7 separate regions of the Homo sapiens genome follow, and all the other regions are linked to region 4. The links come from fine-mapping of genetic effects on gene expression. A gene starts in region 4. Each other region holds a variant in brackets. All regions are shown on one strand. Distances are between the middles of the regions.

Region 1 (4,175 bases), 360 kb after region 4:
CTCTGGTCTTTACTAATAGTGAGATCTGAAGGAGGTTATAGATTCTTTAAAATCACAGCTGTGTAAGAATAAGATAGGGTTTGAGGTGTTTTAAAGCAGTCTTGTGTGCCATTAGAAAAACAGATTTGGTATCATTGGGATGTCTTTAGAGATTTAACACTGTGTTTTGTAGCACGTTTTAATTGTGTGCACTTGGGTTTGGAGCTGTGCAGGCGGTCCTCTACTTAAAGTGATTGTACTTGTAGATGATGCATAAAGGCTTCCAGCCAGTTTCTTCTATGTTATTATGTATTGGCACTTAATGCAAGCAGGTCACAAATGAACTCGCCCCAGCTAGTCTGACTCCTGATATGAATCAAATAAGGCCCCCCTCATCAACAGCCTCAGCTTGTTCCCATGGGCTCCTCTGTGGAACTCAGTATAGGATTAGACTCAGCTCTAGAGCAGCAACTGGGAGAGAGCAGAATGGGAGCAAGATGGCATGGCCTATAGTTCATAATTTAATCTTTTTTTTAAGTGTGTAAATCTCCTATATTTTTTGTTATTATTAATTTTTATTTAATGTTTTTTTTTACTGATATGGATAGTTTACAAATTTAATTCTTGAATTCAAAAATTCAAAGAGGTAAAGTTGGAAGGAGGGAGAAAAATATATATTTGGTTAGCAAGAGACCTTTAATCTGTATAAGGTCCTGTGACGTTCAATGGAACTGATTTTCCTGAGGAGTTAGGAAATTGGCTCTGTGACAATCTCCATAGAGAAGTTCTTTGGACAACTGTAGCAGTGATAATTTCCTTGAAAGAAATACACAACAAACCAAGTAAAAACACTGTGAAGGGCTTCACTTATTGATGTATGTGATGGGCTGAATATGTCCCCCAGAATTCATATGTTGAAACTTAATCACCAATGTGATAGTATTAAGAGGTGGAGCCTTTAGGAAGTGATTAAGTCATAAGGCTAGAGCTCTCATGAATGGGATTAGTGACCTTATAAAAGAGGTGGAAAGGAGGGTCTTAGGCCTGTTTTGTTTTGTTTTTGGCTTTCCACCTCTGCCATGTGAAGACACAGTGTTGTCCCTTGTGTACTTTTTGCCCCTCCTGCAATGTGAGGATACAGCAAGAAGGCCCTCACCAGACACTGAATGCTGGCACCTTGGTCTTGGACTTCTCAGCCTCCAGAACTGTAAGAAGTAAATTTCTGTTCCTTATAAATTACCCAGTCTGATATTTTGTTATAGCAGGAGGAATGGACTAAGATAGTGTATGAAGTTTGATATATTGATGAAAAAGAATTCATTCTGATTACTATATTGTCACACTTTACATCCCAATATACTCCCAACAATGTTTAAGTAATGACTACATCAATAAAAGCAGTTTGAATTGTAGACACTTACTCTGTGATCTTCAGTAGGTCAGTTAACTTCTCTAAGGCTTAGCTTCTTTATCTTTAAATGGGGGATAGCAAAACATAAGCTCTTGTAAAGATTAAATCATTTCTTATATGAAAGTACTCAACATGTTATTTAAATGTGAAAGTACCTCAAGTATATAGGTGGTAGCCAAGAAGTTTTATTTTTTTAAAAATTTATTTTTATTCAAAATCACAAAGTATAGTACAGAATTTTTATGGGAAAAGAGAGCTGGTAGATCATTATAATATCATATATAGCTACTTTATGCTTATGTGCTAATACACATAATATAGATCAACTGGCATTATTTAATACTTAGTATGCTTGGAAAACTGTACAGCATATTAAATTTTAATCAGATATTTTTTCATATATGTTGTCTTGCAGAGGTGATGATATGCTCTAGGTTTTATTATAAACTAAAATGAGATTTTTTTGTTGTTGTTTTATGCCCTTGTAGTTCATATTGTAATTTACTTTTAACAGAAGCAGATCCCAAATTGCATTTTAAAGGTAGATGCCTCTCATGAGACATTTGCATCAGTGAGCGATGTGGGCTTGTGAAAGTATTTTCAAAACTAATCACAGCAGGATTTGTCTCAGTCGTTGAAACATTGTTGGACAGAACAAGATAATTTCACATCCACTAGAGGAATGATATTATTTTAGAATAATATTTTAAAATGTAGATACTATAAAAGGTAAAAGAATATTTTTTGAATGTCAGATTTATTTCCTTTCTGAGTGTACATTGGGATGGTTAGACTTTAAAAGTATAAGTGATTTGTGAGTCCATTCAGCAGTTCTATAGTGTGAGATCTTTTGTATTATCAAAGTAACCATTTTAAACTATTCCTAAGAAAATTCTTACAAGGGTAACCAATGTAATGGTCTTGAGACATGGAAATTGTTTCCAAGAGAAGTTTTAGGATTTAGTGATTTTTTTTCAAATATTTGAGAGCTATCTTTTTGGAATTACATTGCTTTGCTCTTTATTATACTGCATAAATACCCCGAGGATCTTTTTTGTTTTTTTGATT[T/C]GTTGTATCAAACCTATGTCCCTTCCTCCAGAAAATGGACAAGGTGAAGGCAAAGAAGAATTATTTTACCTAATGTTTGATGGTGATAGAAGCAGAACAAGTAGCATCATGAATCTAATTCCTTGGGTTTCTTTGGTCCTTCAGTTTTAATTGAAAAAAAAAAAAAAAAAGAACCAGTATAATAATGTAATATTACCCTAGGCTACTCTTTCCCAAACATTATTTCTTTTTTATTGTTTTAAAAACCTATGCCTTATATTTTCTGACTGCCTTATTTAAAGTAACACCTTCCCCAATAATCTGTATCTATCTTGCCTTCATTTTCTTCAAAACGCTTGTTGCCATCTGACATACTATATATTTTTCTTGATTTTTTTTTCTGTTTGTTTCCTTCATTAGAATAAAAACTCCATGAGAACAGGGACTGGTATCTGTTTTGTTTTTTGCTGTATCCCAGTGCCAAGATCAGCACCTGGTATATAGGATGCCCTCAATAAATGTTTATTGAATGAATATGGTAAAAGAAAAAAAACCGTCTTGCCTATTAAGGTGACTGACTTCTTTTTATGTTAGCATTTGTTTCAAGAATTAATTCATCTCAAATGAACTATCATCCCTTTGAATATCACCCTTCTTCTTTTTACTTGCATCTGTGTCTGAATAGATAGTACTAGTTTGGGAGGTTGTAATAGTCACTTCTCATTTTTGGATGGCCAATGGCCTATTTACAGAGGGTAGATTACTTCCCCATAACCATTAATGTTTATAGTTTAGGGCAAGAGATCAATACTCAAGCCATCTATATTAAACTTGGTCTCTCAATATGGTGGTCACCTATGGATTTCTTTATTTGCTTGATTGTTTCTGTCCATCATTTTCCAAAATGGATTTCAAGAGGCTAGGTCTCTACAAATTCCTAACATCCCCTTCACACTCATCTCTGTTTCTACTCTACTAATCAATCATTATTGGGTCAACTAGATAGAGTTCATAGTGTAAAGTTGCTTATTATTTCTTTATCTCATTTCTAAAGAGAAGTAGTTCATTTCCCCAAACTCCTTTTTTGCTTGGATAATATTTTCCTTTGATGTTATATTTTAGCACTGTTTTAGCCAGTCTCTGTGAAGAGTCAATTCTACATATCCTCTGTACTGTCGATCATTAGAGTGCAGCAACCTAGAACAAAGTGGAGGCACTTGAATTGCTGGCTGGGTTCACGAGTGAAACTAACTGTGAGGACACTCATCTTTGCCCCGTTGGGTTTATTTGGAGTAGATCAGTTTAAATGATAGGCCTCCATGGGAGAAAGAAGACACTTCCATAACAATGAATTCTACATGACAGGAAGCTATGAGTGCGTGAGTACAGTTATTTTTGATTCTTGAAACTTGTTATCAGAGAATTGTTAGCATGGTGGACTTAGGGGCCAGCACTCCAGTTAACAGCTTCCTTTTCCAGACAAATTTAAGTTCCATTAATGGATTTTAATTACACTGACTTTTTCTGCCAAGAGTGGGTGTCATGGAAATTTATAACCTGATATCAAAGGAAACAGAAATTCTTCATTTAACTTTTAATTGTCTCTCAAGTGACAATTACGCTTTGAATGATGGGTCAAATGATGTTATTTATTACAACACTAGGAACCTGTTTAGTCAAATGGAGAAGCTACTTTTCAAAAGATGGGCTTTGAAATTAATGTCTAGTTTTGCATGTG
Region 2 (4,175 bases), 170 kb after region 4:
TTAATAGTTATATGGGCATTTAAGGCCAAACATGTCTTTGTTTTTTAATCATTTGACAATGATTTCAAGCTTGTAGAAACATTGCAAGAATAGTACAAAGAACTGATATGATTTTCACTCAAATTTTCAATATTAAAATTTTATTATAGTTGCTTTATCATATTCTCTCTCTCTCTCTCAATCTGCCCTCCCTCTCCTCTTACCATTACACATTATTATTATTTTGAAGTTTTTTTTTGGCTTGAGAGTACATTGGAGACATGATGCCCCAGTACTCCCTTAGTACTTCAGTGACTATTTTCTAAAAATAAGGACATTTCCCTACATAATCTCAGTATAACCACCAAAATAGGAAACTAGTATTGATACAATATTACCGTCTATTACACAGATTCAATTCATAATTCACTAACTGTCCCAATGATGTTCTTTATATGTCCAGAATCTAAGCCTTGTATTTAGCTGCCCTGGCTCTTTGCTCTCCTTCAATCTGGAATCTTCATTAATCTTGCCTTATCTTTAATGATTTTGACATTTCTGAAGAGTACAGCTATGTTTTGTTTCTCTACTTGGGTTTATCTGATGTTTCCTTATGAATAAGTTGTTATTTTGGGCATTATTACCACAAAAGCGATGCTATGTTCTCAGTTCCTCATGTTAAAAGGTGTGGTTCAAGCTTATCTTGTACTTTTCTTGCCCCAGCCCTGGCGCTACCAAAGACTTCTGGTTTCTTTTAGTGGATGCTAAGGTTGCTCTTTGCTACTGGGTCTAAGATTGCTCTTTACTACTGAGGTGTCTTTGCTTCTAGATCTTTTCAGTGAACAAACCTAGGAAATACAGATTTGCACATTATATGTATATATGTATGTACATATATGCATGTACATACATATATTGATATGGCTTGGCTGTGTCCCCACCCAAATCTCAACTTGAGTTGTATCTCCCAGAATTCCCATGTGTTGTGGGAGGGACCCAGGGGGAGGTAATTGAATCATGGGGGCCGGTCTTTCCTGTGCTATTCTCGTGGTAGTGAATAAGTCTCACGAGATCTGATGTGTTTATCCGGGGTTTCTGCTTTTGCTTCCTCCTCATTTTTCTCTTGCCACTGCCATGTAAGAAGTACTTTTCGCTTCCTGCCATGATACTGAGGCCTCCTCAGCCATGTGGAACTGTAAGTCCAATTAAACCTCTGTTTGTTCCCAGTTTTGGGTATGTCTTTATCAGCAGCATGAAAACGGACTAATACATATGTACATTACATGTATATATGTACGTACATATATACATATACATCTCCATCTATCTATCTATTGATCAGTGATTATCTAAAAATATATGTTCCCACTGATCTCCTCGATTCCAAACGACAGGGTTTATTCTTCCTTCCCCTTTTTGTACTTGTAGGTTCCTTCTCCAACATTAGAAAACCTGGCTCCCATTATCCTCAGTATATTTATTTGTTTGCCCAATTTCCCCTTTTTATACTTAATTTTACAGCTGTATGGGTCATCTCCTTGACCTCAACCCACTATCCCCAGCCAACTGGTTGAATATTTGGTCCCGGTCTTGCTGTCTGTGCCAGCTAATTTCTCAGTCCTAACCAAGGGTAACTGGCCCAGATACTTCTTGTTTCCTAGCACTTTTATTATTTTCTTTTAGATATAAAGGGCTGTGTGGACTCTAAAAGTGATTTGGCTGAGCAGGTAGCATTTGGTATGGGTTATATCATAAAACAAATTTCTATTAAAAATGGGGTTATTTAGTATTTTAGTTTTTTTTTTTTTTTTTTTTTTTTAAAGACAGAGTCTTGCTCTGTCTCCAGGCTGGAGTGCAGTGGTGTGATGTTGGCTCACTGCAACCTCTGCCTCCTGGTTTCAGGTGATTCCCCTGCCTCAACCTCCTGAGTAGTTGGAACTGCAGGCACGCGCCACCATGCCTGGCTAATTTTTTGTATTTTAGTAGAGATGAGGTTTCATCATGTTGGCCAGGGTGATCTTGATCTCCTGACCTCGTTGTCTGCCCACCTTGGCCTCCCAAAGTGTTGGAATTATAGGTGTGAGCCACTGCGCCTGGCCGTATTTTAGTTTTTGTAAAAAAAATTATTATTCTAGATGTGAATGACAGAACTTTAGTGCTTAGCTTAAGATTCTGTTATGCAAGGCAATAACACTGGCATACATGCTAGCCATTTTTGATGTTAAAGATAGTTTATGAATAAGAAACCATCTATATTGTTAAGGCAGGTTTTTCTTTGGTTTCTTTTGGATTTATTTTTTGGCAGCTTGATAAGCAATAGCTAAAACGAGTTCTTGTTGAACCTTGTTTATTGGTTTGCAATAATGAGAACAGTTATTGAGTCCAATAATTTTGTGCTTTTATTTTCAAGTAACAAAGTGTTCTTATTTTGTGATGATACCACAGAAAGCT[G/A]GTTTAAAAGCTAGTTTTAAAGGATCTGTAGCTTGAGAGGTTGTAATTTAGAATGGAGACATGGTGGTCAGAGGAAATGAGCCAAAGTTAAAAGCCTTTTCTGTGCCATTGCATCTGTAACCATCCTCAAAGTACTCTGCACTTTATGTCACAAAAAAGCCTCAAATCCTGTGGGTAAATGTTATCTGCAGGAACCTCATCATTTTTGAAAACAGTACTTTTATCCTTAGAGTGTTTGAACAAGAAATACAAATAATAGTATTTTCTTTTCTTTTTACAGGACAACAGATAGATAGAAGTATTCTTCTGCTATTTTTGAATAAGTGCTATGTGATATAAGAAGCAAAATCAAATTTAAAATTAATGGATGGTGAGATAGAAACTTATGGTATTATCTTGTTTAAATCTCTTTTGCCTCTTTTGTGAAACAGTCATTCTCTTCTTTTTGTGGGGTTATTTTATGCCTAATTTTCTTTTACAAGGTAGAATATAATTGCTTGTCAGCTAATAGTTTATGGCACAGATATTTTTGCCAAACACATTAAAGGTAGATCTTGGTTATACATAACCTTCAAGGAACACAGGGAGCACACATGATATGGACAGAGAAGTTGATGGGCAGTGATTATGATCGCACAGGGAAGGGGAGTGAAGGCTTGTGTTATTCTTTTTCTTTAAATGTATTTACAGTTTATCATGAGTCTTTTATGAGTTTTCATGTCCTTGTCTGCTGTAACTTTACTTGCTTCTTATCCATTCCCTCTCTCTGTCTGCCTTTGTCTCTCACATACATTCATTCACACACACCCAAATACACATACCTTCACACTTGAATTTGAGTAGCTGGCATGCTTAGAAATATTCTCAAATGGGGGTTACATAGGGCCAATGTATATAAATTGATGTACCTTTATGTATATATGTATTTGTATAGTCACACACTCTATTTTCAAATAGAAAACCAGTCATACAAAGTATTTGCCTTATCTTAAACATTCAGTTTATGTTTGTTAAGTGAATGAATGTATGAGTCTAAAAAGAGCAATGATATTAAGGATTGGGGAAAACTGGGCATAGGAAGGATTACTCATGGGGAAGTTATTTATTCAGCAAAGATTGACTTGTCTAGATTATTATATCAGGTTATTTATCAATCATGTGGAGCAGGCTGGGAGTGGTGGTTTATGCCTATTATCCCACTGCTTTGGGAGGCTGTGGTGGGAGGTTTGTCTGAGGCCAGGAGTTCAAGACCAGCCTGGACAACAGAGCGAGACCCTGTTTCTTAAAAAAAAAAAATTAGCTGGGAGTGGTGGCATGTGGTTGTAGTCCTAGCTACTCGGGAGGCTTAAGCCCAGGAGTTGGAGGCTGCACAGTCCAGCCTGGGTGACAGAGTAAGACCCTGCCTCTATTAAAAAAAAAAATTCATGTGGAGCAATTGGTAGGTTGAGTTTATTCCTTCACCCCGCCTTACTGAACCAAATCTTATTTCTGATTAGTAGAGGGTAAGTGGATAATTAATTGAGATGTACACATATTTCATTGGAAAAGATAAATTATGCCTTAGATGAAGACAGTGACCTGGGTATGGGATCAGATATTTGTAATTTTTTTCCTTTTCCATCAGCTTTTCTTATGGCAGCTCATTTTCTGTCTTATGACAGCCAAGTAACCAGTAGAGTAAAATGACGTTTATATGGTAGAAACCACAATGAACCACTCAGGACATCTGCCTTTAAAAACAGCAA
Region 3 (4,175 bases), 330 kb after region 4:
AGACTGACCTTAATGTTTGAGAATAGGATATAAGACAATGCAGCTTTGGAGTCCATCTTCTTCACATAAGGGCTTTACTTCTAGGCAGCATAACATTAAACTTAATAAAATAATAGCCAGCTTAGTGCCAAATACTATGTTAGGTGCTCTTTGTGCATTCTTTTATTATTACAGCTACTTTATTGGATAGATACCATTATCACCATTTTACAGATCAGGAAAGTAAAGCTTAGGGAGCATAAGTAATTTATAGAGGTGTTATTTATCTTGAAGGCTATTTTACTTTAGAGCTCATGAGCTAAGGTGACTGACCTTGCATTATTCTCTGAATAAAGCCTCTAGATCTTAAACAGCAGATTGGACTAATTGAACCCTCCGAATGATGGTAGAAATTGTCCTAAAGTTTTTTTTTTTAAAGAAACAGATTATATACATTTATAAGGTGTAATTTCTATGATTATAGGTAAATATTATAGTCATAGTAATGCTTTATTTTAAATTATTTTTGCTTAATTTCTTCTATTTTGTAGTTTTTAAATCTTGCCTAAATATATGGTTATTAAAATTAATATTAACCATTAATATTAACAAGGTAATATATAGTTTATCTTAGTTATACTATGTTAAATATTGCCAAAAAATAACTTTTTGAAAGAAACAAATTATAAAATCATTCTTATTTAACTTATTTCAGATGAAGGTAAAATACATGTGAATATGGCATGCTAGTTTGTAATCTTCCAGTAAATCAAAACAGGACACAATACACAATTTTATGAATTATTCTTATAGGACATCAAATTGAATTAATTACTCAGTATCTAAGGCACAGGATAGCATTGTTTTCTTCTTCCTTTTACTGAATTATCTTTTCTAATTTTAATTAGCTTCAAAGCAAGGAATTATGAATTTAGTATTTATTTTGAGCCTTCTATGTGTGAGACATTATATCTGGGTGTGGAAATATTTATTCCATCAACTAGGATATTTAAGTTTCTTCTTTTGGGTATTATTTGTTCTTTTTTGTCCATTTGAAAATTATTATATATTCCGTGTTATGGAAACGTCACTGTTGTAAGTTCTTACTTTCTATTCCCAGAGAATGGCCATTTAATTGTATTAGAATGTTTCAGCCTAGATGGGGTTACAGGAACATGATTTGCCTTCCTACCAGAAACAAACAAAAAAGACCAGATACACCGTATGAAAGGGAGTCTTCAGACATTAAATATCAGACAGTTCAGGACAGTGATCCTTTAAGAATGGCAACAAATGAGGTAAGCCCTTTGATTGTACCAGCTGATTGCCTTGAGAGGTTTTTCCAGGGCCCAGCACAGGGAGGAGAACCCAGGTGAATGTTGGTAGTCTAGGGTTGACGAGACAGAGTTGGGAGTCTGGGGAAGTCCAGGTGGCTAGAGTTTGCAGGACAGAGTACTGACTGGAGAGAAGATGCACAGAGAGAAAACTATATAGATATGCAGAAGGTCCTCGTACAGCCCTCAGCTGAGGACCCATCAGTATGTGGGGAACCTACAAAAAGCTGGAGAAATAATCACCTCAAAAGAACACAGGGAATAGTTTTCAGAATTTATACAGGGCTGGGAATTATTCATGTTCCCATATCAGCCAGAGTGGAAAACCTCATAATTCACGAAGCATCAGATAGAATAACCAGAAGAATATTGCCTAGTAGTGGAGCATATTCACCCCTAGATTAAAGGCTGTGCCAGTTTTGCCTAACAAAGTTTAAAAGCCAACTTCTATAGGATTTGCTGTTCCCAAGTAACTTAACTGTTTTCTCAAACAAAGCTCAAGGATGTTCCTCAGGACACAAGAATAT[G/T]TAGCACCCCAAAAGGTGAAAATCATGTTTGGAAGCTAGTAAAAATATTACTTTTAATGCAAAGACACAGGAAACCATGACACAAAATGAGGAGAACATCAATCAGTTAAAAAAAAACACAAATGAGAGAAATAGTAGACAAAGCATTAAAATAGTTATTGTCACATTTAATTTGTTCAAAAAAGGAGAGGAAAGATTGAAGACATTAAGCACAGAAATGGAAGATGTGAAAAAGACTTAAATCTATATTCTAGAGATGAATGTTACAGGACCTAAGATGAAAAAAATTTGCTGGATGGATCTGTGACAGTTTAGTCTACAAAGAAAGAAATTAATGAGGTGACATCATAACAATAGAAACTACCCAAAATGAACCACAGAGAGAATAATGGCTAATTTAAAAAAGAGACAATCAGTGAACTGTAGGACAATTTCAAGTGCCTCAGTATTCATGTTATTCAAGTTGCTGAAGAGGAGGAAAGTGGGAGAGTTTTAGACTGAAATATTTGAAAAAATGGTGGGAAAGAAAATTGATAAAAACTATAAACTCAGAAGAAACTAAAAAAACCCCAAGCACAAGAAGATGATACAGAGGCATATTATAATCAAACTAATACCAGTGATAATGAGAAAATCTTAAAAGAAGGCCAAAAAAAAGAGACGTATCAGGTACAGAGTAACAAAGATGGTTAAGAGTCTTTGCTTTGGAAACAGTGCAACACAGAGGCAGTAGAATAACATTTTTAAACTATAGAAAGAGAGAAATTATCAATGTGGAATTTTTTTTTTTTTTTAGACGGAGTTTCGCTCTTGTTACCCAGGCTGGAATGCAATGGCATGATCTCAGCTCACCGCGACCTCCACTTCCCAAGTTCAAGCGATTCTCCTGTCTCAGCCTCCCGAGTAGCGGGGATTACAGGTGCCCACCACCACGCTCGGCTAATTTAGTATTTTTAGTAGAGACTGGGTTTCTCCATGTTGGTCAGGCTGGCCTTGAACTCCTGACCTCAGGTGATCTGCCTGCCTCAGCCTCCCAAAGTGCTGGTATTACAGGCGTGAGCCACTGTCCAAGGCCATCAATGTGGAATTTTATACCTAGTGAAAATATCTTTCAAAAATAAAGATGAAATAAAAACTTGTTTAGATGAAGTAAAGATGAAAAAATTAGTCACTGGCAGACCTGTACTGAAAGATATGCTAAAAAAAGTTCTTCAGACAGAAGAAAAATGTTATCAGTTAGAAACCTGGACTATATAAAGGAATAAAGAACACTGAAAATGGTAATTTTCTCCCCTTACAGACTCTTTTAAAGTTATTTGACTGTTTAAGTAAAAAATAATAAAAATATATTGTGGACTTCGTGACATATATAGAAGTAAAATTATAATAGTAGTAGTGCAAAGGCTGGGAGAGGGGGAAATGTAAGAATACTGATGTAAATTTCTTATACTATATATGATGTGGTATAATATTACCTGAAGACAGTTCATGATAAATTAAAGGTATAAACTGTGAACCAACCACTAAAACAACAGTTAAAAGAATTATAGCTAATAAGTCAAGAAAGCAGATAAAGTGGAATAATATAAAATATGCAGTTAATCCAAGGGAGGCAGAAAAAGAGAGAAAAGAGGCTGAGGGCAGATAAAAGCAGTAGAAAACAAGTAGCAAAAGGGTAGATTCAAATCCAATCATGATTGTATATATCCAGGGAAAAAAGAGATTATCTCATAATGATAGAAGGGTTAGTTCATTAAGAAGGCATAAAACCCAGCATTTATGTACCTAATAACAGCATCAAAATACTTGAAGCAAAATCTGAAAGAACTTCAAGGAGCAAGACACAAATCCAGTTTTTGTTGGAGATTTAAATATTCCTTCTTAGTAATTGATGGACAGAGTAGACAGAAATAGATACAGACATAGAAGACCTGAACAACCCTATGAATCTGGTGTAACTGGCATCTGTATCATACAAAGAATATTATCTGAGTTTAATGAAATTAAATTAGGTATCTATAACAGAAAGACTTGTAGAAAATCTCCACATATTTGTCAATTAAATGACTCTCCTCTAAATAACCCATAGGTTAAGAAAGAAATAAAAGAAGAATTAAGGAAATACTGAACTGAACTGAATGAAAATGAAAACACATCAAGATTTGTGGGATGTAGCTAAAACAATACTTAAAGGGAAATTTATAGCACCATTTGTATTATAATGACCATCCAACTACATTACTTAAAGTTACTTGTTAATGGGTTGTCTTTTTGTATATTCCAAACAATTTCTGCTTGTGGGGAGAAATTTTAGCTACAGAATAAACATGATATT
Region 4 (4,175 bases):
AGCTTACTTTGCAGTAATTATTTCAGTGACAAGTAAGAAAAACTGGGACATATCCCCTTCACAGGAGAGCAATTTTGCTCTCTTTAGGAAACTCTTGGAATTTTAGTTATCAGGCTATTTAAGACCCTGAGTAGATTCTTAAACCTTTAGAATAAATTTTGAACCAAGAGTGCCAGAATGTCTGTTATTTACATTAGTATTAAGTGATCTGAAAGTGCACAGAGTAGTTTGGCAGTATCTAGAGGGAGAATAGAGACAGAAATAATGAAGATACAACTGGAGGAGTAAGAAAAGGAGAAAAAAAGTATTTTATGTCTGTTCAGTATTTCTAGGTGCCACTGCTGCTAAATGCCTGGGCTTCAGCCTAGGTTGGGTTGCTCCTAGCAAAGAAAACCAGTCCCTGAGACAACGAGTATTGCCAGGGAAGACAGGCTTTAATGCAGGTGATGCTGGCAGGGAGACCAGTCTCAAACATGTCTTAGGGAGACTAAAGTTAGGGCTTTCTATAGCAGGGAATTATGGAGGGGTAAGGAAGAGGAGTTTGTGAACAGGCAGCAGATGCACCTCATTGTCCAGATGTAGTGTTCTGGAAAGTTGCATTTCCTTGACACTATCTGGGAGGTCTGACAGTTTATCTGCTGAGAAAGGAACTCAGGTAAAATGCACGCAAGTTTCTCAAGTTTCACTTCGAAGGGAAAATTTGGCCGGTTTCGGTCTTCCCTTTCTATTTATCAATTCCTCAATCATGCGGAATCTGGTAGTTGATCTTTCTGGCTGCTTCACGTGAAGGAAGGGCATCTTGGGATGATATGGAATGAAAATATCGCACCTGTAATTGCAAGTACTTACGAGTACCTGGTTGGCATCCAGCTTGTTGGAGCACCATGATTTGGGTACTTTCATCAACATTTTAAACCACATTGAATTAGGATAATTAATAACATGGATAAGAAGGTTTCTTTGTAGGTTGTAATAACCCAGTTAAGAGTTTGTACCATTCGGCCGGGCGCAGTGGCTCACGCCTGTAATCCTAGCACTTTGGGAGGCCTAGGTGAGCGGATCACGAGGTCAGGAGATGGAGACCATCTTTGCTAACACGGTGAAATCCCATCTCTACTAAAAATACAAGAAGATTAGCCGGGCATGGTGGCGGGGGCCTGTAGTCCCGGCTACTAGGGAGGCTGAGGCAGGAGAATGGCGTGAACCCGGGAGGCGGAGATTGCAGTGTCGCTCTGGCGACAGAGCGAGACTCCGTCTCAGGAAAAAAAAAAAAAGAGTTTGTACCATTTGAGGGCAAAAGCTTCAGTATGAAATTCCCGTTTCTCTCAAGTAAACCGCCTGTCCTGTGTTACTCACTTTGTTTTACCTGGAGGCAGCAAAACTGAATAGTTTTCCTGAGTGCTCATGAGTAGGAAAAAATGAAATGAAGAGTTGCCCAGAGATCGCTAGTGAGGTGCTTTGCCACTACTGCCCTGTACTTAAGTAACTGTGAGGGTTCTCTGTTTCCTGGCTTCTAAAACAAGAGGAAGAGCTGAAGACACAGTTTCATAGACTTTTCGGCTCTTTATTGTAGTCTCCCCCATTAGTACGTTGCTGAGCTTAGGGCAAGTGCTCAATAATAGCTTGCTGAATTAGTGTTGTGTTTGATCCTTTCAGATCCACGCCGCATTTTGAGCCCGACCTGGGCGGGCGGTCCAGAGACCAGTTTTCCGCCGGGGGCGGAGCTTCGGGCGGCCAGCGCGCGACGGGGCAGCGGGGCGGAGCTTGCCGCCGGCGGAGGGCGGGGTCTGCGCGGGGACTTCCCCCGGGCTGAGCTGCGCAGCGGGTGCGGAGGGCGGGCGCCCGGCGTCCGGCGGCGGGTGGGGGGCTGTGAGGCTGGCAGGGGTCGGCGGGCGCGTAGCCGCCGACCCTTGGTGGTCTCTTGGGCTGGGGACCCTTCCCTGGGAGTCGGCCCCGGCCCCGGCGGGGCGGGCGTTGCCGGGAGGCGGAGGGGTGCGCGGCCGCGAGTCCTGCGTGATCGCGAGCATGTGTGCGTGCGCGTGTTTATCTGAGGCGCGTGCGGCGGCCACCCCAGCCTAGTCCTCTTCTTGGTGCCACTGGCTAACTAGGTTGAGAAACCGGCGCCACAGGCGGCACACCTGGCCCGGAGCTGGCCCGCTCCTCCCCGCCGAGCCGGCGCCCCAACAACGCGCCCTCTCCCAGTCCTCACAAAGGGGCCTAGTCCGGCCCCCGGCTCTGGCCGTGAGGGAGCGCTGTGGGGGCGCGCTGCCTTCTGCCTGGAAGTGTTGGGCAGGTGGTGGGAGAGCGTCAGGCTTGAACAACATGATTTTAAAGCACGTGTCTGTCTGTCGTTTTTTACTTTTAGGGTTTTGGCCAAATTGGGCGAGGGCACAAAATAACCACTTACCCCTTCTCACCGAGGAAGAGCGGGAGAAAGGGTAAGTAAGGAATGGTCAGGGGTGGAAGGACCTAGGACTTTATCCTGAGAGCGAGCGAGAGAGAGAAGGGCTAGATGTCCAGAACTGCTCGTGGGGAACTTGGGCCCAGATTCTACCTTTTCATCGGGAACTGGAGGACCCACCTTCAAAGTCACAGGCTCCAGGCCCCGGACTGTTTTCAGCCTCACACAGTCTATAGAGTTTAACAGCTTGGGCATGTGGATCCCTTTTAGCCCCTTGACCCGACAGAAAACTGCACTTCCCCTTTACCTGTTTTTACCTTGGAACATTGGTCCTCTCTAGTTGTCTGTCTCCGGCCCCTATCTTATTAGCCAGCTTTGACTAATCCCTGAGACCATAGCACTAAAGAATCCAGGTCCTGTTTGATAATGAACAGTAACCCCCCTAGGGATGTTTACATTTTAAAAGGGTACTCCTGAAAAAATCCTTTAGGACCCCAAAGCATAAAGTTAGTAACAAGATTACAAGTGTTGAAGTTCTTTGGGATCTCTCAAGCTTACAGAAGAAGATGTTTTGAGGGGAGAGAGATGACCAGGCTGGGCCTTTTTCTCTGGGCTTTCACTCTTGGTACCTCCTGGCAAGCATTCCATTCACTTTTGAAAAGTTGCCAAAAAGGACACTGAAGTTCTCTGAGGCTTACTGTGATTTTCAGTGTGGTCTATTTCATTGGTTCTTCTGTGGGACTTTTCTATCACTTCTTTAATACACTGCTTCCCTCTCCCCTGTATGGTGAAATGAAACACAGCTCCTCTCACAAGGTTGGGAGCTCATTATGCATCCTATATGTCACATATAAATAACCGTTTTAAATTAGTTGAAATTCAGATTAGCTACAAGCAGGAATGTAGTAAAACTGCATTCTTGGATTCTTACACAGGAAAAGTAGAATTGCCCTCTGTGATAGGCTGCCTATTCTGATACTGGCTGCCTGTGTCCTGAACGTGCCTATTTGTTTGTGCTCAAGTGATAGGTGACCACATAATTTATGGAAAACAGGAAGTGATTGTTTATTGATAATGGGTTCCTTCATTGATTCAATAGCTAATTCTCTCTTACCATGTGCTACGCACTTTTATCAGCACTTTGATAAAAGTAGGATGGTGAGAATGATGAGATTGTATTGGAGATGGCTGTTTTGGGGTAGGCCTTTCACCAGTTTTGTGGATTTTCTCAATAGTTACATGTTAATTTACAAGACTTTCCCTGTACTACTGATCATAGTGGTTTGCAGGTCTATACAGTGTTGTGGGAGAACAGAATTATTATTCCGCCTTTCTAGTACTTTCAGTAATAAACTTACAAGGATGGCTGACCTTGATGATTTGTTTCCTATAATGAATAATGTTATAGTCATTTTCCAGTGTACGAGTATAATAATTAGATGAGGATAACTTTTGTAGTTGTTCCATAAGAAGGACCTAATATTAGGAATCATGGAGAGTGTAAAGGATGATGTACTTAGAAAAATAAATTCGAAAGTAGACCATTTTTAACTTGCATGGGTTTCTGTGCATTTAGCCTCATTTAAAAGATCTAAGCTAGAATAGTTCTTTGTCTTTTTCTGGTTATAAGAGTAATAAAAAGTCAAAAAAAAGTTATTTAGAATTAAATCTGGGAGGGTATAAAAGGCAATAAGTGAGTTTCCTATGAGTCCACTTTCAGATGACCACTTAACAATTTGATACTTGTTTCTTCAACTTTTTGTTCCATATATAC
Region 5 (4,175 bases), 280 kb after region 4:
CATAATGATGGATGAGAATAATGAGACGATGTCGAAGGGAAAGCCAGATCATTTAGGGCCTTGCTAGAGTATGGCAAGGAGTTTTATTTTGTTTCAAGAGTCCTGTGAAGTCATTGATGGTGTTAAGAGGAGTGAGTTGACTTGTTTTTAAAAGATAGATAAATCCTGGCTTATTTGTGGAGAATAGTTTGAATAGGCAAGAGTAGAAGTAGGAGACTACTAAGAAGGTTGACACTAGTGGGTTAGTCAGCATTAAAGATGGAGAAAACTGGATAGGTCAAGATAGAGGTTGGAGATGGAGTCAATGCAATGAACTGGGCAATGCATTAAAAGCCCGAAATGTTTGTTCTCTATATGCTGCATCATGGACAAAATCCTTTGTATTTTGAAGTCTCTGTAACCTGGCCTCTTTATATGTCTGTTTATTTTCCTTTACACCCCAAGGTCCACTTTGTTCTTCAAGCAAAAGAGGTTATAATATAGTAATTAAAAGCACATGTTTTTGCACCCGACTTCCTGAGTTCAGATCTTTGCTTTGTCCCTTCCTATGTGATATCAAGTCAGAGAAATCTTGCCTTAGTTTCATAGATGACAAAACTGTAAAATTGAGACAATAATATTTAGAAAAAGGGTTTTCGTAATTCACTTAGGATCTCAAGATGGCATCCTTTGGCTAGTAGAAATAGCTTTTTAGTTGCTGCCTCAGTCTTCACATGGTCTTCTCTGTCTTTCTGTTTGTTTCTCCTTCTCTTCAACGGACTTGTCTTTGGATTAGGGCCCATCTTAATTCACAGTACTCTTATCTCAAGATCCTAAGTTAATTACAAAAAAGCTTTTTCCAAATAAGGTCATATTTACAGTTTCTGGAAGTTGGCACTTCGGCATATCATTTTGGGGGTTCACTATTCAACCCATTACAGTGAGCTTTTTGAATCAGGCTAAGACCACATTAGTTCCAACTTTGCTTTTATTCTTCTGTTTTATACATTTTACCCAATTTTGAAAATCTGGCGTAAACCTTATCACTTCCATAAAATAGCCTCTGCTGTATAAGATTTGTTATTGGGAGATAAAAAGTAAAATCAAATACAATAATGTTTTTCAATGTCTGTGATTATCAAAACTGCACAGAGGACCTGCTCTCAATAGACTACTTAGGTTAATTGATTTTTATGGATTATTTGGGTGGTTGAAATTTTTTTTTTCATGTTTCATGTCTTAAGGATTGGGAAAATATTTCATTCTCATAGAACTGATGACTTAGAAACCATTAAAATGAATATTTCTAATTCTGTTAAGAACAAGATATCTTAAAAGTTGGATTAGAGGTAGAGTTTTAAATCTAATTTCTGGGTACAAGTTGGGTGTAGATTTCAAGGAAATAGTTTTGATCACAGAAAACTAGATTACTTGTGTATGTGGGGAAGGTAGAGCAAGAACAATATATATGAGCTAGAAAATTATAAAACATGTTATTAACAAAAGATCATACTTTATTAGGTTTTCCTTTCTCACTTTCAGGGCTTAAAGATGAAAAAGTCTTCAGTTGGAGCGTTAATACAAATATGTGTAAATCATGCCTTATTACTGAGTTTCACAACTGGGGTGTGCAACTGATGTGTCTGTATATGTGTAGAGAGAAACTGGAATGATGTTTTAGTGAAGCATTGACAATGGTTATCTCTAAATGGTGACATTCATTTTTAAAACTATCTGATCTGACTGTGTTTTTTTG[A/G]CAATAAAAGTGTGTCATTTTACAAAAACAATTGTTGGGAGTGGAGAAGAGATGAAGAGTTTGAGAGTGGCTGGAGCCCCCAGGCTAGTTCACTCCAGCTGCACATACAAACCATGTTTACTCATGTCTCATATAAAGAGTATAATTTTCTCTATATACCATAGGGCAGAAATTGTTGAGAAGCACTGTAAATGTGTATGTTAAAACTTTTCAAAGAAATTATTTGTTTGTATATTTGGGGATACAAGTGCAAGTTTTTTACATGTATGTGTTGTGTAGTGGTGAAGTCTGGGCTTTCAGTGTACCCATCACCCAAATATTGAGTATTGTACTCAACAGGTGGCTTTTTAGCCCTCACCCCTCTCCCATCCTCTCACCTTTCATAGTCTTCAGTGTCTTTTACTCCACGGTCCATATGTACCCATTGTTTAGCTCCCACTTATAAGTGAGAACATGTGGTATTTGACTTTCTAAGTTATTTCACTAAGGATAATGGCCTTCAGTTCCACCCATGTTTCTGCAAAAGACATGATTTTATTCTTTTTTATGGCTGAATAGCATAATGTAGTGTTACATATACTACATTTTCTTTATCCAGTCTTCTGCTGATGGGCACTTAGGTCGATTCCATAGCTTTGCTATTGTGAATAGTGCTGCAATAAACACACAAATTACAGTTACCATTTTTATATAATGATTTCTTTCTCTTTGGGTAGATACCCAGTAGTGGGATTGCTGGATGGAATAGTAGTTCTATTTTTAGTTCTTTGAGTAATCTCCATTCTGTTTTCCATAAAGGTTGTACTGAAATTCCTACAAGCGTTCCCTTTTCTGCTGCATCTTTGCCAACATCTGTTGTTTTCAGACTTTTTTTTTTTTTTTTTTAAATGAGACAAGGTCCCTGTCTGTCTCAGGCTGGAGTGTGGTGGAGTAATCTCGGCTCACTGCAACCTCCGCCTCTTGGGTTCAAACAGTTCTTGTGCCTCAGCCACCTGAATAGCCAGAATTACAGTGTTTTTAGACTTTTTAATAGTCATTCTGACTGGTGTAAAATGGTATCTCATTGTGGGTTTAATTTGCATTTCTCTGATGATTAGTGATTTTGAGCATTTTTTTGTGTGTGTTTGTTGGCTGCTTGTACGTCTTTTGGAAAATGTTCATTCCTTTGCTCACTTTTTAATTTTTTTTTTATCTTGTAGAGTTGTTTGAGTTCGTTGTAGGTTCTGGATATTAGCCCTTTGTCAAATGCAAATATTTTTTCCCATTCTATAGACTGTCTGTTTACTCTGTTGATTGTTCCTTTTGTTGTGCAGAAGCTTTTTAGTTTAATTAAATCCTATTTGTCTATTTTTAGTTTTGTCGCTTTTGCTTTTGAGAACTTGGTCATAAAGTATTTGCCTAGGCCAATGTCCGGAAGAGTTTTTCCCAAGTTTTCTTCTAGGATTTTCATAGTTTCAGATCTTACATTTAGGTGTTTAATCCATCTTAATTTTTGTGGATGGTGAAAGGAGGTATGGGTCCAGTCATTCTTCTGCATGTGGCTATTCATTTTTTCCAGCACCATTTATTAAATAAGGTGGCATTTTCCCCAGTGTATATTTTTGTTGACTTTGTTGAAAATCAGCTGGTTGTAGGTATGTGGCTTCATTTCTGGGTTCTCTATTCTGTTCCATTCATCTTGGTATCTATTTTAATATCAGTCCCATACTCTGTTGGTTGCTATAGCCTTGTAATATAATTTGAAGTCAGGTAGTGTGATGCAGCTAGCTTTTTTTCCCCTTAGGATTACTTTGGCTTTTTTTTTTTTTTTCGGTTCCACATGAATATTAGGATTTTTTTTTTCTAATTCTGTGAAAAATGACATTGGTAAAAGCCCAGGATCAGATGGGATCACAGCTGAATTCTACCAAATAATAAAGAAGAACTAATACCAATCCTCTTGGAACTATTCCAGAAAATTGAGGGGGAGGGAATTCTTCCTAACTTACTCTATGAGGCCAGCATCAACCTCATCCCAAAGCCAGATAAGGAGACAACAATAAAAGAAAACTGCAGACCAAAATCTCTGATGACCATAGACACAAAATCCTCAACAAAATACTAGCAAATAGAACACAACAGCACATCAAAGAGATTAATATACCATGATCATGTGGGATTTATCTCAAGGATGCAAGGATGCTTCGATATATGTAAATTGGTAAATCTGATACATTACAGACACAGAATTAAGGACAAAAACCATATGATCGTCTCAATAGATGCAAAAATTTCCTTCAGTAAAATTCAGCACCCCTTCATGATAAATATCCTCAAAAGACTAGGCCTTAGAAGGACATATCTCAACATAATAAAGAAAATATAAGACAAACCCACAGCTGACATTATACTTAATGGGGAAAAGTTGAAAGTATTAAGAAATAAGAGGCATCTAAATTGG
Region 6 (4,175 bases), 340 kb after region 4:
GTGTTTATTGAATTACCTCTTTGCACCATGTTTAACTGTTACTTCTTGGTCATTTTTGAAAGGTATAAATTATTTTACCTTTGTTTTTACATATATCCATTAATTTTTTTTTATAACATTGTAAAATACCTTTCACCTAAGATGGTGGGGACCCTTTGTTAACTCCAAGAAGATGGATAGCCATAGGATATGCTATATTTAAATGTAGTTCTTCTGCAAATAACTATAGAATATTTATGCATTTTTGACAAAGTTTCAGAGGCATAAATGCTGCCATTGCCCAATAGAGGAAATTTCATACAAAACTCACCAAACTTTATGTATGGTCAGTTTCTCGGAATGGATACTTCTGCAGACTAGTTCCCCAGTCTTCTTGCACTTCTAACACACACTTGAGAGATGGGACCTGTGGGTCTGTACTGGTCTTGGCCATCTGGTCTCAAGGACCATCAGGAAGCTGTCTTGGTTCTTGTGCTTAGAACTCAGTGTTTCCTGGCTTTTGGGAGGTATTTCCAGATTTGACACCTTTGATTTTTTTTAATAAAAGTTTTTCTTTTTGAGTCTCATTTTTTTTTAATGAGAACCTATTCATCTCCTAATACAAATTGATAGAAATAGACTTGACTTTATCAAGTTAAGTACTTGAGCCAGACACATGTTGTATTCCAGCCTGTGTTCCAAGTGCTCCTGTCCCCACCTTGACAGCCTTTCAGGTTTGTGGCTTTTATTTATATGCTATTGTCTTGTGGTTAGTACCTTTTCTTGAATATAGAGGAGTAGAATTATTTTGTGTTTCAGAAATGTTTGTTTTAAACATGAACATAAACGTATTTCAACAGCAGATAATCTCTTAATGAGGGAATTCTTGGTTGGCCCATCTGAAGTCAATCCTGACATTATTTCTGATAGATTTCTGTGGCCTATGGCTAGGTTTCAATGGAATCGGTTCTGAAATCACTACATGCTGTCGAAATCAAAACTTGTCATATTAGGTTCTGTAACAAATACAACTAATGAGACAACAGATTAATAGTAGAAGTGGTTTTTGAAATATCATTCCAAGGTATTGATTTACTCAAAATGTTATAAATACCACTCTGGATTAACTTTAAAATGGGTTACTATGTGATATATATATTTTTTGTAGATGCCAGAATTCTGTTTCTAGGAATTCTTTATTGATAAAATGTTAAATGTTGAAAGATAGTACATTTGACCAACATACTTTTGACAAACATTCTGAGCATTAGATGTTTATTGTGTGGTTGCCATATTAGGAGTGGTTTATTTCTGGCTTATGCAGAGTATGGGAGTAGCTTTATTAAGTGTTTCTCCTCAGTTTTTGTCTTTATAGGCTCTGAATTTTGTAGACACATTTATTTCTTGGGATTCCTTTTCAACATTGTCCTTTGGGACTGGCAAAGGCAGTTTTAGATAGATCTGGTTTCATATGGAACTGCTTCCTGTGACTAGTGTTTTCTCTTGGGTGCTGTAAAAATAACTAATCCTTATAGTCGAAGCTTAAAAGAAAACAGGGAGATATCCTATAATATATTCTACTTCCATCTTTCCTTATTGATTTCTGGGAACATGTATTGATTGGAAGAAGAAGTTTGGGAATCTCTTAAAGTAATACTTCGGGTAGCAAATGAAATATAGAAAATGGAGAAGGAGATAAAAAAGTAGTGGTAATGGAAGAATGCAGAATAGTGTGAGAAATGTGTGTGGGTGTAAATGGAGCACTGTATGGCTGTTTGCAAGGTGAAACCAGGTGGTGGTGTGTGGCAAGTGCAGCATTCTGTGCTACCAATGCCAGAGAATGATATCTGGAACCATTGAAAGCCCCTTACGCAGCTTCAACCCACCCCTTCTTATTCACCTGAGCAATTTATTTGTTTTCATTCTTTCTCTTATCCATTGCCTTCTTTCTTTATCTTGTTTCCTCCTATTTCATCAGGGATATGAATCCACCAATCACTTCCCCTTTTTACTGGCATTTCCAGTCTTGTCTTCTCCACTGATTATTATCTTGAACAATAAATTTGCTCATGTATTTTCTATGTAGCTCTCTCCATTCTGTCCCTTCGTATTATTGCTATATTACTTCCATTTCCTTCTAGTCAGTTTACCAAAAAGCATGTTACAATTATTGTAGACTCAAAGATACTGTACCTGATAATGCCCTTTTTGGGGAAATGAATCAAAGATCATAATCAACACTTTGTTTTTGTTGTTATTGTTGCCAGAGTTAAAATTTATTTCTTATTTCACTTCACAATTAGCTATAATTATGTTGCTATAAAGAGAAATTTTACATTGTCTCCCCCATTACTGTGGTAGTTGAATTGATCATCATTTAGCAGAAAATCAAAGAGCGCAATGATCAAGCAGTAGAATGACCTGTTGCTAGCTCTCAGAGGTTTAATTCCCCAGAAGCAGACATTGAGATGAGGATTTGTTTGCAAGTAATTTATTAAGAAAGTGAGAAACAGCCAGGCATGGTGGCTCACATCTGTAATCCTGGTACTTTGGGAGGCTGAGGCAGGAGGATCGCTTGAGCCAGAAGTTCAAGACCAGC[G/C]TGGGCAACATAGTGAGACCTTGTCTGTAAAATAAAAAAATAAAATAGTAAAATAAAATGTAGCTGGGCATGGTGGCACATGGCTGTAGTCCAAGCTACCGAGGAGGCTGAGAAAGGAGGATTGGTTGAATCTGGGAGGTCGAGACTGCAGTGAGCCGTGATTGTGCCATACTTCAGCCTCGGTAACAGAGCAAGACCCTGTCTCAGAAAACAAAACAAAACAAAAAAAGGAGTAATCAATTAGGGAGTGACAGAATGGGAAAAAAAGGGAATGGGGAAGAAGAGGTATGATTTTAGGCAAAGTCTTTTCAAGGATAGCTTTAGTCTAAACCTTCATGAGAGCTCTGGAGTATGAATTATTTGTCTGTTCAAACCCAAATTAAATGAGGTAGATGTTCATACTTCCATCCCTACCAGCCACTGCCTAAGGATGATAAAGGGGTACAGGAGGGGAGATGCTTATCCCCAGTTAGGGGGATATATAAAGTGACTATAGTAGCCTGAGGGCATAAGAACACTTAACAAGTCTTATCTTTTGGAAGCAAAATCACACTGAAACAACATGCAAGTCAGAATATGTATTGTAATGTGCACAAGTCTTCTTAAGGAACCATGTGATGGAATTGGATAATTTACTTTGCACTCCATCACTCCACTTAACCACCCATTCTTTTTTTTTTTTTTTTTTGGCTCTATCTCACCATTTTGACTGGAAAAGGGATGAGTATTTTATAGCACTTTTGATGGATAATTGTGACATTCTTCTTTGATATTATATTGATATTATACCAAAACTCAATAAGTAGTACTTTCCTATAGACTATTTACAGTGTGGAATCTGATGCCATATCAATGAACTTTTTGTATTTTCTCACTCCAAAATCCATTGGTTTATCTTGCACCTTGAATAAATCTTTTACCCATGCATGTATTGGTCATTTGGAAAATATAGATTCATTGGGTTATATATCTTCCAAATGTTTATGCATTTTATTATACAGCATAAACAAATCCCATTTATTAATATTACTACTGCTGCATCAGAAAAGTCATGATATTAGTAAGCTCTTACAGTGGCAATATAAGGCTTTCTTATAACTGTCACAGTGACAGATGTAAGTTTTTCAAACTTCTACTTTTTGCTTGAAAGCTTTAATGTTATCATTGGTAATGAATACTGTCAGTTGTTTTCCTTGAAGTGACAGATTAACTTTGTCCATTTTTGTGAAAATGTCTGCCAAAAATCCAAGTCTAAATAATAATAGCTTATCTGTCAGTTGTCCCTTTAAGTAAAAAGTGTTTGGTGGAAAAAAGTGGCTAGTTCAGCTTGCAACGGAAACAACCAGGAGTGCTGTTCCTTAAACAACCATTGTACTCTAGTTGCAGTGAGTGCTTTATGTGTATTTGCCATTTCACCACACAGAATAATAAAACACATTTAATTTGAGATATAATGGAACTAAGATTTTTACTCCTTCATCGAAGACATTCTTAAATAAAACAGACTTTGCTTGCTTTAATGACAGTGCATGGCAGTGAAGAGTACAATGACTCAGTAAAGTTTGGTGCCAAGGCTTTGATTTATGCTAAGCTGCTA
Region 7 (4,175 bases), 920 kb after region 4:
TGTCCTCCATGTGTCTCTCTCTTTGCCCCTGTGTGTTTACATATCCCTCCCTGCCCTTGTAATAATGAACATATACATGCATTTTTAAAGTTTATTAAGTAATAATAACAAACAATTCTGATGGTAATTTTTTAACATGAAACTGAAAGGAAAGATTTGTTTTCCTCAAAAAATCTTGTCCCTCTCTTGCCCCCTTACCTTCATTAAATATAACCTTTAAACTTGGGTCCAGCTCATGAGTATGTATTTTTTCTATTGGTCACTTATTCTTAATCAATTTATAGAAATAACTGTGTGCTATTATTTAAAAGTTCATATTAAAGCTTTTCTTTTAAAGAGAAGAAATTCTCCTGTTCTAAAGAGTTAATTATAATTTGTAGTGAATGATCATTACATTTTTACCAAAATGAAGAACGTAATTGAAATGTGTCTCTTTGGGAAAGTGCATATAGTATATGACTTCTTTCTGACCATGAATTTCCCTGAAACAAAAGTCTAGCATAGTCAAATTTACTTTTCTATACCTATTTAGCAATCAAGAGAATTTTGTTCTAAGGATAAGCAAATATTAACTGTCCACTATGGGAAATAATAGAAAGGGGAGGATTGGGGATTTGGGAGAAGAAAATGGGGATTGAGCACATGGAAAACTAGGAGTAGAGGTTTATTGCAGTGGTTTTCAGAGAGGAAAAGGAAGGCAGAAGGTGAGTAATTTGGGTCTCAGAATGGCCTTCCTGTATAGTGAGAGGAGCAGAAGTCAGGAAGGAGTCCTCAAAAACAGGCTGGGGAGCCAAGTCCAAGTATCCTGCCACATTCTAGAATCTCCTGGTGAATATCCTGTGTTTAGAGATTTGAAAACACTCATTTGCTGCTAGAGCAGATATGCTGAATAAGGCAACAGTAGCATGTTATTTGAAGTCTTCGTCATCCTGCAGCCATGCGGTAGAGTTGGACTTGGGAGTCCAAGCTCATAACTCTGATTCATAAAATCCAAAAGGCATTGACCTCTTGGAGGGAAGAAAAGATGGGAGAGGGTAAGGTGAGGGAAAATGCCTCTCACAATGCAATGCTTTCCTCAAACAGAGCACAATTGATTTTAAGCATGTCTTTGACAATGAATAAAAAGGGAGATCCTGAGGAATGGATGGTCTGAAAATTTCATCTCAGAACCCATTCTTACTATTTAAGTTATATAAAAATTAAAGATAACATCTTTATTTGCTTTGTTTGTGGGTTTTTATTGTCTCAGTTTTTGCTGATATTTAAAATATTTTAAGATTCCCTTTTATGCCCTTAGTTCTTCTAACATTATTTATCTTATAAAGGTTTTTAGTCCTTCTACTTAAAATTCTCTTGCTATGAGGGATTGCAGAAAGGTCGTCTTTGCAGTTATTGCAATTGAGGGGAAGAATACTGGACATTTGATTTAAGGAATTTAGAAGGTCTTTATCAATATATATCATCCCTGAGAAGTAATTATCTAAGCTTTGTTTAAATGCCCAAGTGATGGAAAATGTGTTGTCATATAGACAGCCCATTAAATTTAAGATAGGATTATTTGTTTGACAACTTTCCTTACATTGATCTAAAATTTTTCTCTCTGCAATTTCTTCTGCCTTCTGAAATAAAGAAATGTGATCTATTTTTTTTTCTAAGAGGTGTTGACAATTTTTTTTTTACGTGTAGTTCAAGTTCTTTCCTTTAGTAGCAAGTTTCCTGTATATTCCTATACATTGTGGGTTTTTTAAATTATCACATATGATACTTTTATGACTGTAATTCCTTATATCTGACTTAGGTTGGTGGCTTCATTTAATCTCATTTGGTCTCTCAAATCCTTCCCCCTTTTCCTTCCCTGCCTACTGCTCTTACCATCCACTGTCCCAGACCTTTCTACTCCTACAGCTCCCACCTTTTCTTGTCCCCAATTGCACCTTCTCTGCAAACAAACAAGAGCTTGGGCCTGACAGGTAGCTCCTCTGAGGCTGGTGGATATGTCATGGGGACAAGTGGGCATCGGGCCAAGTGTTAGCCACCTTCCATGTGAGGGCGAGACATCAAAACTGCTGTGTCTTAGGGCCGCCAGCCCCAGTGAGAGCAGAGGAGCTTCCCAGAGGCAGTGGCTCTAAAGGCTCCTTTGATGGAGCTATGCTTGGCAGGAAGGGGCTGGCGTCCCATGGGACCAGCTGCATTGGAGCCTGTAGCTTAGAAGCCCGTGGGAACTGGGTACCAAAGTCACAGGAGCCAGTGGAGGCCAGAGGGATGTCTGACAGAGTTCATACATTTCATATTTGAAATGCCTTAAGAACATGGATTCTCTGATTTTTACAAAAATAAATTCTGACACTTAAAAATCATAAAATGCTAGTGGTCATACTGGTAGATCAGTCTTACAAGAAATAACGTCAAAATGCAGTGATGCTATTTCCTCCTGCATTGCAGCCAGTCCACCCCCAGCGAACCTTCACTCCTCTACCAGTTCCCTCCTCTGTTCCTAAATGACAAGATTTCAGCCCCATTTCCTGAATACTTTCTTGTTTTAATGCATAGTAAG[G/T]TTATGTGACTGATTTTGGCATTCATCTAATAATAATGGCTATTAGGTATGCATTCAATGCACACTTAGTGAAGCCAACTCTTGGGCTCTGGGCTGAGCACTAGGGATTTAGCAGTGAATGAGACAGAGGATTGAGATGGAGCTCTGGGGCCGGGCTACTTTCATTCATCCCCAGCCCTGTCTCTTACTAGTTCCTCTAGCCATTATTTAATATTTCTGTTGCAGTTTCTCCATCTATCAAACAAGAATAATAATGGTAACAATTAATTGATAGTCTAATTTTCAATTAAAAATCTAATGGAGTTGTCAGGATTAAATGACTTTATACATGCAAATCACTTAGAACAACACTTTGCAGCCACTAAATATTAAATAACTGGCATATGTTATTACATTAGATGGGTCCTACCCTCAAATGCCTTATAGTTTAGTAGACAGAAAAATAAGTCAAGAGACTTATCAGGTGAACTGATCAGAAACTTTGGTTAAGGCTATTTGATTATCTAAGTCTCTACCAACAGCACAGTTTTTCAGCCCTTATTTTTAAACTTTTATTTCCTAATCTATAAAGATATCTCAAGATAGGCCAATGACCTTCGGATGCCATTGCCTAGTGCATTATGGTTAACCAATATGGTATGTGGAACATAAAGCAGTGTGGTACTTTTGAACTGGTGTATATTTTCTGTTAAAGAGCCTGGCTACTAATTAAGTTCTGGAAAAAGTTGAGCAATGTCTTGGCTCAGGATGCTATAATAAAATAACATAGACTGGGTGGCTTAAACAACAAGTAGTTCTGGAGGCTGGGAAGTCCAAGATCAAGTTGCTAGCACAGGCCCTGGTGAGGGCCTGCTTCCTGGCTTGCAGACAGCAGTGGACTTCTGCTGTGTGCTCTCTGTCTTCCCCTTAGAAGGGCACTAATCCCATCATAAGGGACCCACCCTCATATTAACCTCATCTAAACCTAATTACCTCCTAAAGGCTCACCTCTAAATACCATCACATTAGGGGTTAGAGGCCCATAACCAGTAAGTTACAAAACTTACCTACAACTCAGATTCTTCACTCTGCAGTAAAAACAACAATACCAACACCAACACTCCCTCAGGGCTATGAATTTGCAATGAGAAGTTTTATATAGAGCCCATTGCTCAGCATTTCAGAAGTCCTTCTGTCCAGCAGTTAATAATAATGAATTTCTAAAAATACATAATGGAGGTAGAAACATGTATCCTATATTATAGTAATTTGCAGTTGATAGATAATTAAAATTAACCCCCTTCCTGGTACTGTCTATCCACATGATTTTTGCAAGTGTGTCAAAATATTATTCCAGTCTTCTAAATGGAGGACCACGTACATATCTTTTGAGAGCACAATTCTAATTAAAAGATGGCAGCTGAGAAGTAGTAAAGTCTTTGTTATAATTCAAACCTTGTCAGACAGAATTTGAATTGAATTTGAACATTATCTTCCACTGGAATTTTGTTTTTCTACTCCCAGGAAATGTATCCTTTGCCTTTATTTTTTCAGACAAAATATATCCTTTTGTCTAAAAAATTGTTTAGACTTTTTTTTTTAAACTTCAGGCAGGGATCCTGTGACTGTTGGGAGCCAAGAA

Which allele goes with the higher level. Positions count from the first base shown, and alleles are read on the strand shown. Sizes are in standard deviations (SD) of each study's normalised expression. Not every link is listed here.
As copies of T replace C in region 1, the expression in fibroblasts of the gene that starts at base 1,797 in region 4 goes up (small effect, 0.22 SD a copy in GTEx).

Evidence for each region.
Region 1: its variant is fine-mapped to the expression of IMMP2L in fibroblasts (GTEx, PIP 0.91).
Region 2: its variant is fine-mapped to the expression of IMMP2L in whole blood (TOPMed, PIP 0.99).
Region 3: its variant is fine-mapped to the expression of IMMP2L in whole blood (TOPMed, PIP above 0.99).
Region 5: its variant is fine-mapped to the expression of IMMP2L in blood mononuclear cells (TOPMed, PIP above 0.99).
Region 6: its variant is fine-mapped to the expression of IMMP2L in whole blood (TOPMed, PIP above 0.99).
Region 7: its variant is fine-mapped to the expression of IMMP2L in spleen (GTEx, PIP 0.97).

Annotation. Positions count from the first base shown.
Region 1 is chr7:111,202,023-111,206,197 of GRCh38, reverse strand. All of the region lies in intron 3 of IMMP2L (inner mitochondrial membrane peptidase subunit 2), which reads left to right. It overlaps LOC124901725 (a long non-coding RNA gene), which reads left to right. Exons shown (of 2, transcript XR_007060477.1): 1 at 1-4,175. Among named protein-coding and RNA genes, the nearest start is that of LRRN3, 110 kb to the right of the region's middle. The variant T/C (reference allele first, on the strand shown) is at 2,459.
Region 2 is chr7:111,385,599-111,389,773 of GRCh38, reverse strand. All of the region lies in intron 3 of IMMP2L (inner mitochondrial membrane peptidase subunit 2), which reads left to right. It overlaps LOC124900232 (a long non-coding RNA gene), which reads left to right. Exons shown (of 2, transcript XR_007060475.1): 2 at 2,711-4,175. Among named protein-coding and RNA genes, the nearest start is that of IMMP2L, 170 kb to the left of the region's middle. The variant G/A (reference allele first, on the strand shown) is at 2,431.
Region 3 is chr7:111,233,930-111,238,104 of GRCh38, reverse strand. All of the region lies in intron 3 of IMMP2L (inner mitochondrial membrane peptidase subunit 2), which reads left to right. LOC124901725 (a long non-coding RNA gene) reads left to right here. Exons shown (of 2, transcript XR_007060477.1): 1 at 1-4,175. Among named protein-coding and RNA genes, the nearest start is that of LRRN3, 140 kb to the right of the region's middle. The variant G/T (reference allele first, on the strand shown) is at 1,841.
Region 4 is chr7:111,560,114-111,564,288 of GRCh38, reverse strand. It overlaps IMMP2L (inner mitochondrial membrane peptidase subunit 2), which reads left to right and starts at 1,797. Exons shown (of 6, transcript NM_032549.4): 1 at 1,797-2,438. RefSeq lists a silencer at 1,636-2,265.
Region 5 is chr7:111,276,012-111,280,186 of GRCh38, reverse strand. The region is part of intron 3 of IMMP2L (inner mitochondrial membrane peptidase subunit 2); the gene reads left to right. Among named protein-coding and RNA genes, the nearest start is that of LRRN3, 190 kb to the right of the region's middle. The variant A/G (reference allele first, on the strand shown) is at 1,736.
Region 6 is chr7:111,224,783-111,228,957 of GRCh38, reverse strand. The region is part of intron 3 of IMMP2L (inner mitochondrial membrane peptidase subunit 2); the gene reads left to right. It overlaps LOC124901725 (a long non-coding RNA gene), which reads left to right. Exons shown (of 2, transcript XR_007060477.1): 1 at 1-4,175. Among named protein-coding and RNA genes, the nearest start is that of LRRN3, 140 kb to the right of the region's middle. The variant G/C (reference allele first, on the strand shown) is at 2,579.
Region 7 is chr7:110,635,370-110,639,544 of GRCh38, reverse strand. No RefSeq gene overlaps it. Among named protein-coding and RNA genes, the nearest start is that of LRRN3, 450 kb to the left of the region's middle. The variant G/T (reference allele first, on the strand shown) is at 2,555.